Linked DNA regions of Homo sapiens: region 2 is linked to region 1. The links come from fine-mapping of genetic effects on gene expression. Tissue or cell type: skeletal muscle. Region 1 holds a variant in brackets; the other region holds the start of a gene. All regions are shown on one strand. Distances are between the middles of the regions.

Region 1 (2,763 bases):
ACGTATACATACATAAACACATGCCTACACATACACATATATATACACACACACATATATATATACATATACATACACATATATACATGCATATATACACACGTATATACTGATATGGTTTGGCTGTGTCCCCACCCAAAATCTCATCTTGAATTGTAATCCCCATAATCCCGATGTGTCAAGGGTGGGACCAGGTGGAGGTAACTGGATCATCGGGCTGTTCCCCCATGCTGTTCTCATGATAGTGAGTGAGTCTAATGAGATCTGATGGTTTTATAAGCATCTGGCATTTCCCCTGCTGGCACTCACTCCATCCTGCTGCCCTGTGAAGAAAGTGCCTGTTTCTCCGTTGCCTTCTGCCATGATTGTAAATTTCCTGAGGCCTCCCAAGCAATGCAGAACTGTGAGTCAATTAAACCTCTTTCCTTTATAAATTATCCAGTCTTGGGTATTTCTTCATAGCAGTATGAGAATGGACTAATACAATATACATATATGTATATATATGTTCATACACATATACACGTATACACACATATATACACATATACACATGCACACACACATACACATATGTACACACATACATATATACACATACATACACATTTATGCATACATATGCATATGCATATACATATGTACACACATATACATCTACATATATGCATATATGCATATACACACACATATACATACACATATACACATGCACATATATACACACGTATATACACACATGTATACATGTACACATGTATATACATACATACACTTACATACATACACATACTGTAATTTATATATACATATACAGATTGAGCATCCTAAATCTGAAAAATTTGAAATCTGAAATGCCCCCGAATCCAAAACTTTCTGAGCACCAACGTGATGTTCAAAGGAAGTGCTTATTGGAACATTTTGGATTTCAGAATTTCATATTTGGGATTCTCAATGGTATAATTCAGGTGTTCCAAATTAAAAAAAAATCCAAAATCTAAAAAACTCCTGGTCCCAAGCATTTCTGTTAAGAGATACTCAATCTGTATGTATGTACATGTATGTGTACACACACACACACACACACACACA[T/CACACAT]ACACCTCCTTTGTGTGTACTGTACTTTTTTTTTTTGCTCCTCTCTCCCTTCTCTGGAAGCATATAGAATCTTCTCTGTTTCACCAGTTTGGAAATTTAGTAATAACTGCTTTGGTGTGGGTCTGTCTCCTTTTACTGAAGTGGGAACGTAAATGTCTGGTTGCCAGGAAGCCTACAAAACAGTCTTTAACTTGGTGACTTTTTTGGGACTCACAGATCTACAGAGTCATGCACTTAATTTTGTCAGTACACTTAAGAGTTGGTTTTTCTGTCTGGGATGGACTTAATCTCCAACCAAATTCCAAGGAGACTTCTGGTTTGACCTTCTATACCTCAGATCCTGTTACTCTCCAGTGCCCAAAACTATCAGTGACTCTCATGGAGAACCGAATCTATGCTGTTTATTACCTTGGCATTCAAGGCTCTGTGTAATCTGACTCCAACCTACCTTCCAAGCTCAACGCCTCTGATTCTACCAACTAAACCTTACATTCAAAAGTCAAACTGGAATAGTCCCCATTTGAGGCATAAGTCAGAAATATTCCTAACTTAGCACCATTGTTCATATAGTTCTATGTCCTAGATTGTCCTTTTCGTATTTGTCCTGTCAGAATAATCTACTGAATACCTTCCATTTATTTGGCAATATAGATGAATAATATAGTTTCTGATGTCAAAGATTATTATCTTGAGAAAAAGATATGACCCAACTGTAATGCAGGGGCAAATGGTACGTGTACCACGAGAGAAAAGCCAACAAGTCTTTGTGGGGTTTCAAAGACAGGAGAGAGCACCTACTATTGGAAGGATCAAGAAAGGCTTCATAGGCCGGGCACAATGGCTCATGCCTGTAATCCCAGCACTTTGGGAGGCCAAGGCAAGTGGATCACCTGAAGTCAGGAGTTCAAGACCAGCCTGGCCAACATGGTGAAACCCCGTCTCTACTAAAAATACTAAAAATAGCTGGGCGTGGTCATGCATCATGCCTATAATCCCAGCTACTTGGGAGGCTGAGGCAAGAGAATCACTTGAACTTGGGAGGTGGAGGTTGCAGTGAGCCGAGATTGCACCACTGCACTCCAGCCTGGGAGGCAGAGTGAGACCCTGTCTCAAAAAAAAAAAAAAAAAAAAGAAAAGCTTCATAACCCCTCCTTTAAAAAGTAAGAAATTTGAATTTGAAGTGGGCCTTGAAGGATATTGGGGTTGGATAACGTTGAGATTGGAGGATATTTCAGTATGAAGAACAGCATGAATGGAGGCATGGAGGAAAACAATTACAAGTAATATCTGAGGTACATCAAGCAGAGTGGTTGGCTATAGCTTAGTTCTGGGTAAGGGAAAGATAAAGATTGAAGGACATATTGGGACCAGAGCTTGGAGAACCTTCAATGTTGGCTTAAGATTTTTCCATCACATCATAGGATGGTGTTGAGGAGTCAGTCCCTGGAGTTAAAACCACCTTTTAAAAGTCAACTCAGGCCAGACGCGGCGGCTCACGCCTGTAATCCCAGCACTTTGCAAGGCTGGGGTGGGCAGATCACCTGAGGTCAGGAGTTTGAGACCAGCCTGGTTAACATGGTGAAACCCTGCTTCTACTAAAGATACAAAAATTAGCCAGGTATGGTCATGGGTGCCTGTAATCCCAGCTACTCAGTAGGCTGAGGCACAAGA
Region 2 (2,632 bases), 35 kb before region 1:
CATATCCACAAGGAGTTCTCAATTCCACATCCCTCGTAAGAACAGTCTTCCCTAGAGTTCCCCCACTTCAATAAATAAAATCACCATTTAACTATGTATTTATATCCCAAATCCTTTGATTTCTTCCTTTTCTTCTTCACTTAATCCATCACCAAAGTCTTGTCAATTATACTGACGTAAAAGGTCTCAAATTCATCAATTTCTTTTCATCTCCACCATTAAATTACTACCTTAGGCGAAGCCACTTTCGTTTTTAAAAAAATTTATTTACTTTAGAGATAGGGTCTCTCTGTCACCCAGGCTGGAGTGCAGTGGTGCCATCATAGCTCACTGCAGCCTCGGACTTTTCGGCTCAAGTAGTCCTTCTGCCTCAGCCTTCGAAGTAACTGGGACCTCAGGCGAACACCACCGCGCCCAGCTAATTTTTTATTTTTTGTAGAGATGGAGTCTCACTTTATTGCCTAGGCTGGAATCGAACTCCTGGCCTCAAGCGATCCTCCAGCCCCAGCCTCCCAAAGCGTTGGGATTACAGGCATGAGCCACTGTGTCTGGCTTGAAGCAACCTTTGTCATACCCTAGTCTCCTTGCTTTCATTTTTTCCCTCCAAAAGTCCTTCACACAGCAACTAGACAACTTTTCACAAACATAGATCATTAAAAGGCCTAAAAAACACTTCCTACAAGATTCTGCATGACCTCGCCCTGGCAAGCATATCTAATTTCATTACCTGTCTTACATTGTCACTTTGATGACCCTTATATTCATTCTCTCATATCTTCAACTCTTTGTACTTTACTGTTCCTACTGCCTGGATTGCTTTTTCCTCAGCTCCTCAGTGACTGGCTTATTCTTATCTTTTAGATCTCAACTCAAACATCTTCTGTTCAGAGAAACCTTCCCTGAGTAACCCTATCTGAAGTGTCCTTCATCATCTCTGGTCTTTCTTTCATAGTATGATTATATAGTGTAATTGTTAACTTATTTGTTCACTTGTTTACTGTGTCTCCCCCATCAGTGTTCCAGGAGAGGTGGGACATTTTTTCTGGTTAACCAAATCCTCAATAATTACCACAATGCCTGGCACACTGTAAGCACACTGTTATTTCTCCAACAAAAAACTCAATGAATGAATCTAGGATACTTCCGAAATTATGACTTAGGCAGAAGTAGAGCAAATGTAAAGAAAAGCCTACACAGGAAACGCAGATGGAAGAGTAACGCGCACATGGATGAGAAGGACGCTTAAACTTGGAGTCAGCTTCGCCAAATCCCGGGCCGCCCCCCACCCCAAGTCCGGAGCTGACAGCTGACAGCTGACAGCATGACGCGACGTCCTGCATTGGTAGGCACGAAGGACGGGACACATCGACCCCATGGGCTGAGGTGACGGAGTCCTGTGCTCACAACCCGGCCGGGGCAGCGGGCAGTAAACCCCTGCTAGACACGCGTGAGAACCTATGTTGGAAAATCGGGGTTCCGGAAGCCTCACATCCAGAGCGGCACGAGGCAACAGACCCGCTGCGTACGCGTTTTCTAAGTGTCCGAAAATGGGCAAAATTCCCTGCGCAAACCCCGGGTGTAAGAACAACCGGAGGAGACTCACATCATCCGACTGCATGGTGTCCGCGGCTCAGCGTGCAACTTCCGGTCGGATCGCGGGCGCAGACATGCTCCTTCCGGGAAACCAGTTCCGGAACGCGCAGCCTCACCTATCTCGAGAAACGCTGAGACTCTCGGTGTTGCGAAGCGTCCCCTGGCAGTCTCGTCGCCGCGCGCGCGCCCCCGCGTCTTCACCACGCTGGCGTCTGCGCGCGCCCGTCCGCAATGCTGGGCTTGTTCATGGGCGCAGCCTGGAGCTGGGAACCCTGTTGGGACCCAGTGCGATCCGCGGGAGGCAGGACGCGCGCAGTCTGCCGAATCCTGGAGCGCGGGGACCGCGGGGGTCGGGCGTGCTTCCCTAGCGCCCTGTTTGTGACCGTTCATGAGGATGGGACCCCTCCCTGTCGGGCCTCCCCTCTGCTGGGAGGAGGCTGGGGAAAGCTGCAGGCGGCGCGGCGGGGCTGGGTCCCCGCTCCTCCGAGTCCCCCGGCCCCAGCTCGCAGCCAGGCCCCGGCCCTGCCCCTCAGACCCTGACTTAGCCACTCCCCACGCCCACGTTGGGTGCGGCACCGGGTCCTGACTTTAGAAACTCAGAACTTGAATTCCTCCTGCTTTGAGAAACCACTGACCAAATGGAAAGAGCATTCCAATAATAATAAACACCTGTGTCTTCCTCATTGCCTATTTGAGACAACAAACAAAGTTGATAAGGGAGGGAAAATACCAAGAAGAAAAGTAGAGGTCTAATAACCCACAAAAACAAATCTGGAAGCCTAACAGCTCTTTTCCGCCAGGGGAAAAAGAAAATCTTTACTAGTTTGTATCGTATTATAGAAGAAAGACTGTCGGCCGGGCCGGGCGCGGTGGCTCTCGCCTGTACCTCAGCACTTTGGGCGGCCTAGGCGGGCGAGTTCCAGACCAGCCTGGCCAACATAGTGAAATCCCGTCTCTACTAAAAATACAAAAATTAGTCGGGCGTGGTAGCAGGTGCCTGTAATCCCAGCTACTTGGGAGGCTGAGGCAGGAGAATCGC

The links. PIP is the estimated chance that this variant, and not a neighbour inherited with it, causes the effect.
Region 2: MAK16 starts here. The variant in region 1 is fine-mapped to the expression of MAK16 in skeletal muscle (FUSION, PIP 0.95).

Annotation. Positions count from the first base shown.
Region 1 is chr8:33,449,396-33,452,158 of GRCh38, reverse strand. The region is part of intron 3 of POFUT3 (protein O-fucosyltransferase 3); the gene reads left to right. Among named protein-coding and RNA genes, the nearest start is that of POFUT3, 22 kb to the left of the region's middle. The variant T/CACACAT (reference allele first, on the strand shown) is at 1,093.
Region 2 is chr8:33,484,193-33,486,824 of GRCh38, reverse strand. MAK16 (MAK16 homolog) reads right to left here and starts at 1,643. Exons shown (of 10, transcript NM_032509.4): 1 at 1,604-1,643. The coding sequence starts at 1,618. RefSeq lists silencers at 1,636-1,823, 2,034-2,223 and enhancers at 1,714-1,863, 1,851-2,487.